2 linked regions of the Homo sapiens genome follow. The protein of the gene in region 1 interacts with the protein of each later gene in a biochemical or structural test. Each region holds a gene or a part of one and is shown in the gene's direction. Other genes may lie near its edges.

The links.
Region 2: the proteins of LEP (region 1) and SIGLEC6 interact in a biophysical measurement, tested with the Homo sapiens proteins (one study listed by IntAct).

Annotation. Positions count from the first base shown.
Region 1 is NC_000007.14:128,251,258-128,258,131, forward strand, and holds the end of LEP (leptin precursor), read left to right. Parts: intron 1-733; 5' UTR 734-761; coding exon 762-905; intron 906-3,146; coding exon 3,147-3,506; 3' UTR 3,507-6,372; downstream 6,373-6,874. UniProt on the Homo sapiens protein: Key player in the regulation of energy balance and body weight control. Once released into the circulation, has central and peripheral effects by binding LEPR, found in many tissues, which results in the activation of several major signaling pathways.
Region 2 is NC_000019.10:51,528,670-51,536,375, reverse strand, and holds the start of SIGLEC6 (sialic acid-binding Ig-like lectin 6 isoform 1 precursor), read left to right. Parts: upstream 1-4,705; 5' UTR 4,706-4,727; coding exon 4,728-4,794; intron 4,795-4,856; coding exon 4,857-5,216; intron 5,217-5,416; coding exon 5,417-5,695; intron 5,696-5,858; coding exon of another isoform or gene 5,859-5,891; coding exon 5,892-5,939; intron 5,940-6,394; coding exon 6,395-6,652; intron 6,653-6,752; coding exon of another isoform or gene 6,753-6,796; exon of another isoform or gene 6,797-7,401; intron 7,402-7,706. UniProt on the Homo sapiens protein: Putative adhesion molecule that mediates sialic-acid dependent binding to cells. Binds to alpha-2,6-linked sialic acid. The sialic acid recognition site may be masked by cis interactions with sialic acids on the same cell surface.

The DNA of each region.
Region 1 (6,874 bases):
CTCGAGGGTAGAGAGCATCTGTTGTTCACCATTGCATCCTCGGTGCTGAGCACTGCGTCTGACATATTATTTAGAAGGTCAGTAAGTGCTAGTGGGATTCAGGCTCCCAGTGGGTGGGAGAGAAAGGACGTAAGGAAGCAAGTGGTAAAGGCCCTCACAGAGTATCAGCAGGCTGGTGTGAGGGAGAAATGCAGAGGATGGGTGAGTAGCATAATCGCTAATGATAGGGTAATGATAGAGCACATTTCACAACACCTTTAAGCCCTTTCACGTGCATCAGATAATTTGATCCTCATAAAAGCCTAGAGATAGATATATTACAGGGATGAAGGTGGAGTATTTTGTGGTTATGTGATATGTTTAAAATTATGCAGTGAGTAAATGACTGGGTTCAAACCAGACCTTAAAAGTCTGTTATCTTTCCCTCGAGCATGCAATGAAGTCTACATCATCCCTACCATGTCCATTTGATCACACCCTGGCCTCACAGCTCTGTGGTCTACAGGATACCTCATGGTGGTTTTATTGACCAGACAATAATCCTCTTTCTAAGGGGATGCATTTCATTAATACATATGTAGATCATGAATTGTCTTTGACTTTGAGGGGATGGTAGCCAGAGCAGAAAGCAAAGCTGATTTTCATCCCCGTCTGGTAATGTGGTTGGTAATGTGAAGATGGGTGTATTCTGAGATACCGGCTCCTTGCAGTGTGTGGTTCCTTCTGTTTTCAGGCCCAAGAAGCCCATCCTGGGAAGGAAAATGCATTGGGGAACCCTGTGCGGATTCTTGTGGCTTTGGCCCTATCTTTTCTATGTCCAAGCTGTGCCCATCCAAAAAGTCCAAGATGACACCAAAACCCTCATCAAGACAATTGTCACCAGGATCAATGACATTTCACACACGGTAAGGAGAGTATGCGGGGACAAAGTAGAACTGCAGCCAGCCCAGCACTGGCTCCTAGTGGCACTGGACCCAGATAGTCCAAGAAACATTTATTGAACGCCTCCTGAATGCCAGGCACCTACTGGAAGCTGAGAAGGATTTGAAAGCACAGGGCTCCACTCTTTCTGGTTGTTTCTTTTGGCCCCTCTGCCTGCTGAGATTCCAGGGGTTAGTGGTTCTAATTCTAAACCACTCCAAGAACATTTGATTTTGCTACATGTTTCCATTTAAAAATCATAGGATTTGGGCTGGGTGTGGTGGCTTGTACCTGTCATCCCAGCACTTTGGGAGGCCAAAGCAGGAGGATCATTCGAGCCCAAGAGTTCGAGACCAGCCTGGGCAGCATAGGGAGACCCCATCTCTACAAAAATAATAAAAAATGTTAGCTGGGCATGGTGGTGTGTACCTGTGGTCCCAGCTAGGGGAGGCTGAGATGGAAGGATCACCTGAGCCTGGGAGGTTGAGGCTGCAGTGGGCCCTGATCATGCCACCGTGCTCCAGCCTGGGTGACAGAGTGAGACCTTGTCTCAAAATAAATAAATAAATAAATAAAAGTCATAGGATTTGATCAGGCATGATGGGTCACATCTGTAAGCCCATTGCTTTAGGAGGCCAAGGTAGGAGGATCAGTTGAGGCCAGGAGTTCAAGACCAGCCTGGGCAACATGGCAAGACCTCTCTCTCTAATTTTTAAAAAAATAAAAATTAAAGATAAGAAAAAAATCATAGGATTCTCATGAGGCCTCACGTGCTTATTTTCAACCTACCAAGGGGAAACCCAGGCCTCAGCGATTAGCTGAGCCACATGCAGGCACAGCCACTGTCTCTTTCCTTCCTGTCCCCTCTGTCCCCACCTTCTGCGCTCGCCTTCCTCCCTGACTTCACTTCCTTGAATCTTAGTGCCTACGACCAGAGGGAGCTGTGAAGTTCCTTGTGTCCCATTGGCAGGAACAAGACCCCCAGAAGCATCTCCTCAGGGCCTCTATCCCATCTCTAGATGTGCTTGTCATTAGGGTTCTTGTAGTTCCAGCTGATCTCTGGCCCTGCCGCTCAAAGATACCCAAAAGAGCGAGTCTACCCTTTTTCACATTCAACCCTCTACTGATTTGCAAATAGCAGTCAGTGCCCACCCTGGTCTTTTCTCTGGGGTCCAGCAGGCCTAGACCTTCAGCCATTTTCCTGATGAGGTCTGTATTTGAAATTAGGAAGATTAAGTTTGAATCTTCACACTTCTGATGTCTGTGAGATCTTCAGCAAGTTCCTTACTGTCTTTAAGCCTTGTTTTCATCATCTGGATAATGGGGATATCACACACTATTCACAAGGTTGTTATGAGGCCTAAATTAGCTAAAGCAATTGAATCCTCCTTACCCCCTGCATGGAGCTCTCTGGAGACTTCCACGTCTCCTGGTCATTGTGGGTGTCTTATGGTAGTCTTGGGCAGTTAGGGAGAAGTTAGGTGTCTGGAAGCAAAGATGGCTCAGAACTAGATAGAGTCTTGGGCATTTTATAGATAAAAACTCTTGTCTCCTTTAAAAATAATAAAAAAAAATTAGCTGGGCATATTAGCCACTCAGCAAGACTGCACGTGATAGATCCCGAGTGCCCCACCTTGGGTGGTGTAATACACAATATCACGGGAGCCCCGGGTAGTAACCACGGAGGTGTCAGCCTCAGTGCTGTGGGCAGATGGATGGGGAGAGCCTCCCGGAACTGGAGTCACTGGAGCAGGGTTGGGGGGCCTCACTGAGGGTACGGCCTTGATCTCTAAGGAGGAGGGACTGCCTGGAAAAGCTGACTGGGAGGGAGGACTCGGCTGGGGGTAGAAGGGACTAGGGAAGGCTGGGGGTGGGGGTGCTTATGGAGGACCTCAGATGCCTGGGGAACAGACTCCACTAAATAAAACATATGAAACCATGGCTGGTTCTTCAGCAGAGGCCATGTAGAGAAAGGAATGACCTAGGAAAGTTGGCCTGGAAGTGGAGGGAAGGATGGTGTGGGAAAAGCAGGAATCTCGGAGACCAGCTTAGAGGCTTGGCAGTCACCTGGGTGCAGGATACAAGGGCCTGAGCCAAAGTGGTGAGGGAGGGTGGAAGGAGGCAGCCCAGAGAATGACCCTCCATGCCCACGGGGAAGGCAGAGGGCTCTGAGAGCGATTCCTCCCACATGCTGAGCACTTGTTCTCCCTCTTCCTCCTGCATAGCAGTCAGTCTCCTCCAAACAGAAAGTCACCGGTTTGGACTTCATTCCTGGGCTCCACCCCATCCTGACCTTATCCAAGATGGACCAGACACTGGCAGTCTACCAACAGATCCTCACCAGTATGCCTTCCAGAAACGTGATCCAAATATCCAACGACCTGGAGAACCTCCGGGATCTTCTTCACGTGCTGGCCTTCTCTAAGAGCTGCCACTTGCCCTGGGCCAGTGGCCTGGAGACCTTGGACAGCCTGGGGGGTGTCCTGGAAGCTTCAGGCTACTCCACAGAGGTGGTGGCCCTGAGCAGGCTGCAGGGGTCTCTGCAGGACATGCTGTGGCAGCTGGACCTCAGCCCTGGGTGCTGAGGCCTTGAAGGTCACTCTTCCTGCAAGGACTACGTTAAGGGAAGGAACTCTGGCTTCCAGGTATCTCCAGGATTGAAGAGCATTGCATGGACACCCCTTATCCAGGACTCTGTCAATTTCCCTGACTCCTCTAAGCCACTCTTCCAAAGGCATAAGACCCTAAGCCTCCTTTTGCTTGAAACCAAAGATATATACACAGGATCCTATTCTCACCAGGAAGGGGGTCCACCCAGCAAAGAGTGGGCTGCATCTGGGATTCCCACCAAGGTCTTCAGCCATCAACAAGAGTTGTCTTGTCCCCTCTTGACCCATCTCCCCCTCACTGAATGCCTCAATGTGACCAGGGGTGATTTCAGAGAGGGCAGAGGGGTAGGCAGAGCCTTTGGATGACCAGAACAAGGTTCCCTCTGAGAATTCCAAGGAGTTCCATGAAGACCACATCCACACACGCAGGAACTCCCAGCAACACAAGCTGGAAGCACATGTTTATTTATTCTGCATTTTATTCTGGATGGATTTGAAGCAAAGCACCAGCTTCTCCAGGCTCTTTGGGGTCAGCCAGGGCCAGGGGTCTCCCTGGAGTGCAGTTTCCAATCCCATAGATGGGTCTGGCTGAGCTGAACCCATTTTGAGTGACTCGAGGGTTGGGTTCATCTGAGCAAGAGCTGGCAAAGGTGGCTCTCCAGTTAGTTCTCTCGTAACTGGTTTCATTTCTACTGTGACTGATGTTACATCACAGTGTTTGCAATGGTGTTGCCCTGAGTGGATCTCCAAGGACCAGGTTATTTTAAAAAGATTTGTTTTGTCAAGTGTCATATGTAGGTGTCTGCACCCAGGGGTGGGGAATGTTTGGGCAGAAGGGAGAAGGATCTAGAATGTGTTTTCTGAATAACATTTGTGTGGTGGGTTCTTTGGAAGGAGTGAGATCATTTTCTTATCTTCTGCAATTGCTTAGGATGTTTTTCATGAAAATAGCTCTTTCAGGGGGGTTGTGAGGCCTGGCCAGGCACCCCCTGGAGAGAAGTTTCTGGCCCTGGCTGACCCCAAAGAGCCTGGAGAAGCTGATGCTTTGCTTCAAATCCATCCAGAATAAAACGCAAAGGGCTGAAAGCCATTTGTTGGGGCAGTGGTAAGCTCTGGCTTTCTCCGACTGCTAGGGAGTGGTCTTTCCTATCATGGAGTGACGGTCCCACACTGGTGACTGCGATCTTCAGAGCAGGGGTCCTTGGTGTGACCCTCTGAATGGTCCAGGGTTGATCACACTCTGGGTTTATTACATGGCAGTGTTCCTATTTGGGGCTTGCATGCCAAATTGTAGTTCTTGTCTGATTGGCTCACCCAAGCAAGGCCAAAATTACCAAAAATCTTGGGGGGTTTTTACTCCAGTGGTGAAGAAAACTCCTTTAGCAGGTGGTCCTGAGACCTGACAAGCACTGCTAGGCGAGTGCCAGGACTCCCCAGGCCAGGCCACCAGGATGGCCCTTCCCACTGGAGGTCACATTCAGGAAGATGAAAGAGGAGGTTTGGGGTCTGCCACCATCCTGCTGCTGTGTTTTTGCTATCACACAGTGGGTGGTGGATCTGTCCAAGGAAACTTGAATCAAAGCAGTTAACTTTAAGACTGAGCACCTGCTTCATGCTCAGCCCTGACTGGTGCTATAGGCTGGAGAAGCTCACCCAATAAACATTAAGATTGAGGCCTGCCCTCAGGGATCTTGCATTCCCAGTGGTCAAACCGCACTCACCCATGTGCCAAGGTGGGGTATTTACCACAGCAGCTGAACAGCCAAATGCATGGTGCAGTTGACAGCAGGTGGGAAATGGTATGAGCTGAGGGGGGCCGTGCCCAGGGGCCCACAGGGAACCCTGCTTGCACTTTGTAACATGTTTACTTTTCAGGGCATCTTAGCTTCTATTATAGCCACATCCCTTTGAAACAAGATAACTGAGAATTTAAAAATAAGAAAATACATAAGACCATAACAGCCAACAGGTGGCAGGACCAGGACTATAGCCCAGGTCCTCTGATACCCAGAGCATTACGTGAGCCAGGTAATGAGGGACTGGAACCAGGGAGACCGAGCGCTTTCTGGAAAAGAGGAGTTTCGAGGTAGAGTTTGAAGGAGGTGAGGGATGTGAATTGCCTGCAGAGAGAAGCCTGTTTTGTTGGAAGGTTTGGTGTGTGGAGATGCAGAGGTAAAAGTGTGAGCAGTGAGTTACAGCGAGAGGCAGAGAAAGAAGAGACAGGAGGGCAAGGGCCATGCTGAAGGGACCTTGAAGGGTAAAGAAGTTTGATATTAAAGGAGTTAAGAGTAGCAAGTTCTAGAGAAGAGGCTGGTGCTGTGGCCAGGGTGAGAGCTGCTCTGGAAAATGTGACCCAGATCCTCACAACCACCTAATCAGGCTGAGGTGTCTTAAGCCTTTTGCTCACAAAACCTGGCACAATGGCTAATTCCCAGAGTGTGAAACTTCCTAAGTATAAATGGTTGTCTGTTTTTGTAACTTAAAAAAAAAAAAAAAAGTTTGGCCGGGTGCGGTGGCTCACGCCTGTAATCCCAGCACTTTGGGAGGCCAAGGTGGGGGGATCACAAGGTCACTAGATGGCGAGCATCCTGGCCAACATGGTGAAACCCCGTCTCTACTAAAAACACAAAAGTTAGCTGAGCGTGGTGGCGGGCGCCTGTAGTCCCAGCCACTCGGGAGGCTGAGACAGGAGAATCGCTTAAACCTGGGAGGCGGAGAGTACAGTGAGCCAAGATCGCGCCACTGCACTCCGGCCTGATGACAGAGCGAGATTCCGTCTTAAAAAAAAAAAAAAAAAAGTTTGTTTTTAAAAAAATCTAAATAAAATAACTTTGCCCCCTGCTCTTTGTTTCCTGTCGCCGTTCCTGGAGGGGCTTCGGGAGAGCTGTTTGTGTGTGACAGGGCAAGGCCTGGCTGGCCCCCATCCATCACTGGGGTCAGCTCCGCCCCAGGCTTGGCCACAGCCAGCCGCCAGTTATTCAGGCAAAAGGATTACCCTGTAAAGAAAACAGAGCTGGGTTTGGACGCTGAGAGGACTGGGAAACAGGTTGCAGGGAGGCACAGGAAGCACACACCAAGAGCCAGAGAGAGGCCTCTGTGCCATCCCAAGGAATGAGGACAAAGAGAGGGGTCCTCGGGAAGAAGGGATCCACTTTGGAGAGGCCCCTTAACACGGGACAGAGCAAGGACAGAAAGAGGCATCCACTGGGATGGAAGAAGGACAGGATCCACAGGGAAAGAGGGATGAGGGGAATGAAGAGAGAAGAAATAAAGAGTTCAGCATCACCTCATGATGCAACTAATTTGGCACAATGCCCAGCACAATGTACCCCTCCATTCTGATT
Region 2 (7,706 bases), on another chromosome or scaffold:
TTTGAAATTCCAGACAAAGAATTCAAAATATTGATGTTAAAGAAGCTCAGTGAGATACAACAGAATTCTGAAAATCAATACTATGGAAACCAGAAAAACAATTCAGGGTATAAATGAGAAAATGATCAAAGAGATATATATTTTTTAAAATAACCAAATATAAATTCTGGAACTGAATAGTTAATTGAAGGAAATGCAAAACACATTTGAAAAGTTCAATAATAGACTAAATCTGGCAGAAGAATCTTGGAACTTGAAGACAGGTTTTTTGAAATAATCTAGTCAGACAAAAATAAAGGGAAAAGTACAAAAAATAATGAGCATAGCCTTAATAACATTTAGGACAACAAAAAGCAATGGAATTTATAAATTACTGGTATCTCTAAGGGTGAAAAAACAAAGAAATATTGGAAAACCTACTCAGCAAAATAATACATGAAAACATCCCAAGTCTAACAAAAGATTTAGGTATAGAGATACAGAAGGCCCAATGATCCCCGGGCAGATCCCCAATGCAAAAGGTCTTCTCCTTGGCACATTATAGTCAGACTGTGTGAAGTCAAAGTTAAAGAGCAAATTCTACAAATAGCAAGAGAAAAGCATCTAGCTACCTCTAAAGGAAATTCCATTTGACTAAGAGCAGATTTCTCAGTAGAAACCTTACACACCAGAAAAGAAGGAACTGATATATTCTAAGTGCTAAAAGAAAAAATAACTGCCACCACAGAACATGCAAAGAAACTATTCTTCATAAATAAAAGAGAAATAGATTCATCCCAAGACAAACAAATGCTGATGAAATTTATTACCACTAGACCAGCCTTGGAAAAAATACTCAAAGGAGTCCTAAACCTGGAAGCAAAAGGATGATTTTATCATCACGAAAACATATGAAAGTAAAAAATTCACTGGTAAAGCAATCATGCAAATGAGAACTAGAAAGGACTCAAATGGTACCACTACAGAAATCCACCAAATCACAAGGACAAACAATAAGATAAAAGGAAAGAAACAACGAATGTTTAAAACAAGAAAATGTTTAATAACCTGACAGAAAGAAAGCCTCACAAATCAATAATAACCATGTATGTAAATGGATTAAAGTATCCTCTTAAAAGATATAGAATGGCTGAATGGATTTTAAAAATGACTCAACAGTGTGCAGCTTAAAGAAACACACCTTAAGAAAAGACACATATAGACCAAAAGTAAAAGGATGGAGAAAGATATTCCACACAAATGGAAACCAATAGTAAGCAGCAGTAACTATACTTAGATAAAACAGACCTTAGGTCAAGAGCAGTAGAAAAAGACAAAGAAGGTCATTATATAATGATGAAGGGATCAACCCAGCAAGAGGATATAACAATTCTAAATATATATGCACCCAGCAATGGAGCAGCCATATCTATAAAGCAAATATTACTAGATCTAAAGAGAGAGATAGAATGCAATACAATAATGGTGGGAAGCTTCACCACCCTATTCTCAGTAAGACAGATCACTTAGACAGAAAATCAACAAACAAACATCACATTTAAACTACACTATAGACCAAATGGAACTAACAGACTTTTACAGAACTTCTACCCAACAACTGCAGAATACATATTCTTTTCATCAGTACATGAAACATTCTCCAGGATACACCATATATTCGGCTACGAAATAAGTCTCTATAAATTAAAAAAAAAATCAATATTTACTCAATGTATACTCAGACCACAATGGAACAAAACAACAAGTCAGCACCAAGAGGAACTCTGGAAACAAGACAAATGTATGGAAATTAAACAATATGCTCTTAATGACCTACCAGGTGAAAATCTATACAGGAAAAACTAAAAAACACTGATGAAAGAAATTGAAGATGACACAAACAAATGGAAAAACATCCCATACTCATGACTGGAAGAATTAAGATAGTTAAGAAGCCCACACTGGTCTATAGCAATCTAAAGATTTAATGTAATCCATATGAAAATACCAATGTCAGTCTTCACAGAATTGTAAAAAACAATTATAAAATTCATATGGATCCAAAAAGAACCTGAATAGCCAAAGCTATCCGGAGAAAAAAGAACAAAGCTGGTGGTATCACTTTACCTGACTTCAAAGTATATTACAAGGCTATAATAACCAAAACAGCATGATATTGGTATAGAAATAGATACATAGACCAATGGAATATAACCCAGAAATAAGGCCACATGTATACAGCCAATTGATTGTCAACAAAACTGACAAGAACTTATATTGAGGAAAGGACACCTTCTTCAATAAATGGTGCTGGGAAAATTGTATACCCACACACAAAAGAATGAAACTGGATTCTTCTCTCTCACCATATTAAAAAAAAACTCAAAATGAATCATACACTTAAATGTAAGACCCAAAACTATAAAAAAAAAAAACAGCTACAAGAAAACCTAGGGAAAACTCTTTTGAACATTGGTCAGAAGAGTCAGAAATTATGACTAAGTTCTGAAAAGCACAGGCAACAAAAACAAAAATAAACAAATGGGACTTAATAAACAAAAAGCTTCTGCCAGGAAAAGAAATAATTAGAGTGAAGAAACAACCTGTTGAATTGGAGAAAATATTCGCAAACTATTCTTCTGACAGGAGACTAATATCCAGACTATACAAGGAACTCAAACAACTCAACAGGAAAAAGCAAATAATCCAAGTAAAAAGTGGGCAAAGGACAGGAATAGACAGTTCTCAAAGAATACATAAGAACAGCCAATACGACAAAATGGTCAGCGTCACTAATCATCAGAGAAGTGCACATCTAAACCAAAATGAGATACCGTCTTACCCAGTCAGAATGACTATTACTAAAAAAACAAAAAATAACAGATTTTGGCAAGGATGAGGAGAAAGATAACTCTTCTGTACTGTTGGTGGGAATTTAAACTAGTACAGCCACTTTTGAAAACACTATGGACATTTCTCAGGAACTAAAAATAGAATTACTATTCGATCACTCAAGCAATCCCACTACTGGGTATCTACCCGAAGGGAAAGAAAGAAATACATCAAAGAGATACCTGCATTCACATGATTTTTGCTGCACTATTCACAATATCAGAGATATGGAACCAACCTAAGTGTCAATTAACAGATGAATGGATAAAGAAAATATAGTATACATGCTATTTGGCCATAAAAAAGAATGAAATCGTGTCATTTGCAGCAACATGGATGGGACTAGAATTCATTATCTAAATTGAAATAAGTCAGACACAAAAAGACAAATGTTGCATGTTCTCACTTACATGTGGGAGCTAAAAAAATATTATCACATGGAGGTGGACAGTAGAAAGATAGACAACAGAGACTGGAAAGGGTCAGATGGGGGAGGACAGAAGATGAAGAGAAGTGAGTGAAGTGCTACAAACATACAGTTAAAAGGAATAAATTCAGCGTTAGAGAGCAGAATAGTGTGATTTTAGTTAACAAGAATGTATTGCACTCACGTGACGGACACTCTAAATATCCTGACATAATCATTACGCATTATATACATGCAAAAAAATTTTACATCTACTCCTTAAGTTTGTAGAAATAAAAAAATTTACAAATATATGGTGGCAAATTCTAATACCTCATAGGTATTAGAGATTTGCCAGATGCATACTGCACAGAGGAAAATAGAAAACCATGTGAGCTAGACCTAAAAATTTTAATTTTGTCAGGATATTCTGCTCACGTTGTCCAGAAATATGTCTTTTGTGCCACATTTAACTGTGAGAAGCAGATTTTTCACAGGAAAGAAATTGCTAATCTCTATGATGAGGACCTAAAAAAAAATCTCTCCAGTCCACACTGCACTGAGTGGCAACATTAATTCAAAAGAAGTTTCTTCTGCACTGCAGTTCATAAAATATGTGTCCTTTTTGATTTACATGAAGATGTTGCATGGTTCTTATTTTGGAGATGTCATTGAAATTTTGTAAATCAGCGTACTAGCTGTCAAGGAAAAACCTCCATACTCATGTTTTAAAAAATATCTGGCATTCTACTGTGTCACTTGGCAAACTCACCAGTGTCCACAGCTCTAAAGCTAGATAGTGAGGGTGTGTGCTGAGGATGGGAAGCTATGGATGGGGATCATCTCAAGGGTAGGGACCAGGTCCCTGGCATCTCTTCTCCAGCCCGACCTACATACAGATGCTCACTATGTCTTTGGTGAATGAATGAATGAATGAATGAATGAGTGAATGAATGAGTGGCTATCACCCACACTGCACCTGGGACCCTTCTTCCTTTCACTGTCCCAGACACTCCCACAGACCCTACAGAATCCTATATCCTGCAGGACTGACTTTCTCATGGCGTGGGATGAGGCTGTGACTCTCTGGGGCCAGGAGTGACCAGCTCCCAGGTGTAAACAGTGGTGCACAGAAAAGCACCTCAGGTGGGCAGGGCCTTGGACACAGGTTTCGCATTCCTCAGATGCCCCGGGAGGCCCTGGTCCGGGCTCTGTTGCTCACAGGAAGCCCCGAGGTGGGAGGCGGGACACAGTCTCTTCTCCTCTGCTCTTCTTTGGGCAGGTCTCTGGGTCTCAAAGTTTCCGTCTGCTCTGTGCAGAGGGAGTGGAGCTCCGAGGGCTTGTGGCTTCGCAGTTCCTCTTCTGTGAACAGCCGAGATCACGCGCTCCTCCCCAGCCACCCGTTCCTCCCCGCAGTCCTTCCCCTCCACTCCCTTCCCCTTCTCTGCTCATGCAGGGAGCCCAGGAAGCCTCCGCCTCAGAGATGCTACCGCTGCTGCTGCCCCTGCTGTGGGCAGGTGAGTGGGCCAGGGGAGAGGTGCCGTGGGGCTGGGCCGAGCTGACCCTCATGTCTCCATAGGGGCCCTGGCTCAGGAGCGGAGATTCCAGCTGGAGGGGCCAGAGTCACTGACGGTGCAGGAGGGTCTGTGCGTCCTCGTACCCTGCAGATTGCCCACTACCCTTCCAGCCTCGTACTATGGTTATGGCTACTGGTTCCTGGAAGGGGCTGATGTTCCAGTGGCCACAAACGACCCAGACGAAGAAGTGCAGGAGGAGACCCGGGGCCGATTCCACCTCCTCTGGGATCCCAGAAGGAAGAACTGCTCCCTGAGCATCAGAGATGCCCGGAGGAGGGACAATGCTGCATACTTCTTTCGGTTGAAGTCCAAATGGATGAAATACGGTTATACATCTTCCAAGCTCTCTGTGCGTGTGATGGGTAAGGAACCAGCTCCAGGACTAGCCACAGGGGAAGGTCATGGGGGCCGTAGGGCAGGGCTGGGACGGGAGCCCCGTCTTGGGAGGCGGGTACAATTAAGCATGTTGGGCTCAGAGAAGGAGCTGGACCAGAGACTGGGCTTCCCCCTGGGTGAAACCTCAGACCTCCATCCTGATCCTGCGTCCCCATCTCCTCACCAGCCCTGACCCACAGGCCCAACATCTCCATCCCAGGGACCCTGGAGTCTGGCCATCCCAGCAATCTGACCTGCTCTGTGCCCTGGGTCTGTGAGCAGGGGACGCCCCCCATCTTCTCCTGGATGTCAGCTGCCCCCACCTCCCTGGGCCCCAGGACCACCCAGTCCTCGGTGCTCACAATCACCCCACGGCCCCAGGACCACAGCACCAACCTCACCTGTCAGGTGACGTTCCCTGGAGCCGGTGTGACCATGGAGAGAACCATCCAGCTCAATGTCTCCTGTGAGTGCTGGGCCAGGACGCCCGGGTCCCTGAGGGTGTGGGGGGACAGGGCAGGGCTGAGCCAGAGCTTAAAGTTGGGGACCTGGTTGCCAAAGAGGAGAGCCCCTTTCCCTGTTTTCATGGCTCCTGAGGGGAAGGCCCCATGCCTACCATCCCTCCTCAGGGATGTTGAGGCGGCCACCTCTTTCCACCCCAGATGCTCCACAGAAAGTGGCCATCAGCATCTTCCAAGGAAACAGCGCAGGTAGGAACCAGCCAGTCCTGTTCTCTCCAGGGCCAGATGGAAGCAGAGTGGGGACTAACGGGGATCAATATGAGAAGCCAGGACTAAGGCCTCCATAGACTTCAAAGACCTGGACTGAATCTTTGCTCACCCCCAGCCTTTGTCGCCTCTTCGGCAGGAGCTGCCACACCCCTCGCACTCCCTCTTCTCTCTTGCTTGTTTTCCTACTGCCTCAGGCGTCTCCATGGTCCAGGAATGGCACTTGTCTGCCACGACGCTGTCCGCAGCCCTTGCTCCACTCTCTGCAGGACAGCCTGGGCAGCTCCAGGGAAATGGTCTGGGCTTTTCTGAAGACCTGAGGCCCCCACTTTACTAGTCTCCTCCTCAGAGCTAGTGTGGACCCCACAGGAGGAGAGGGACACCAGTGCTTTGCCCCTATACCCCATCTCTAACTCTCTACACCTCTCTCCCCAAAGCCTTCAAAATCCTGCAAAACACCTCGTCCCTCCCTGTCCTGGAGGGCCAGGCTCTGCGGCTGCTCTGTGATGCTGACGGCAACCCCCCTGCACACCTGAGCTGGTTCCAGGGCTTCCCCGCCCTGAACGCCACCCCCATCTCCAATACCGGGGTCCTGGAGCTGCCTCAAGTAGGGTCTGCAGAAGAAGGAGATTTCACCTGCCGTGCTCAGCATCCTCTGGGCTCCCTGCAAATCTCTCTGAGTCTCTTTGTGCATTGTGAGTGTGGGGGGAGGTGCGCGAGAGTGTGGGCAGCTGGGCGAGAGCTCCATAGTATTCAGAGAAGAGGCCCCTGCTAAGTCCTGTCCTCCCTCCCCAGACCCCTCACAACTGCTGGGACCCTCCTACCTCTGGGAGGCTTAGAGTCCACACTGCAGTGGCTCCTCCCTGCACTGGCAGCTTGGGGAGGAGATTCTGGAGGGATGGGAACAGCAGCCATGGCTCCTTCACAGTCACCCCCAGCCAGCCGGACCCTTGGTCAACAGCTCCCTGAGCCCCTGCCAGGGATTCAGCTCAAGTCTCAGGCTCAGCTTTGAGGCCCAGAACATCCCAGAGCAGCTCTGTCCCAGCTGCTGCCAGGTCAGGAGTCTGCTAAGAGGTGACAATTGGGGGAAGAGAAGCCTGGGTCCTTGTATGAGTTTGCTAGGGCTGCCATAACAAAGTAATTCAAAGTGCACGACTTAAACAATAGGGATTTATTGTCTCACGGTTCTCAAGGTCAGAAGTCCAAGATCATGTATGGTGTTAGAGTTGGTTCCTTTTGAGGCTGTGAGAGAATCTCTTCCATGCTCCTTCCCTGGCTTCTGGTGGTTTCCTGGGAGTCTTTGGCGTTCCTAGGCTTAAAGAAGCATTGCCTCGACCTCTGACTTAATCTTCACATGGTGGTGTCTGTGTCCACATGTGCGTCTGTGTCCACATTTTCCCTTTTTTTTTTTTTTTTTGAGAGAGGGTCTCACTCTGTTGCCAGGCTGGAATGCAATGGTGCGATCTTGGCTCACTGCAACATGGTAATCTGACATATGCAACCTCCACCTCCCGGGTTCAAGAGATTCTCCTGCCTCAGCCTCCCGAGTAGCTGGCACTACAGGCGCCCACCACCATGCCCAGCTAATTTTTATATTTTGAGTAGAGACAGGGTTTCACCATGTTGGCCAGGATGGTCTCGATCTCCTGACCTGGTGATCTGCTAGCCTTGGCCTCCCAAAATGATGGGATTACAGGTGTGAACCACTGCACCCGACCCACATTTTCCCCTTTTTATAAGGACAACAGT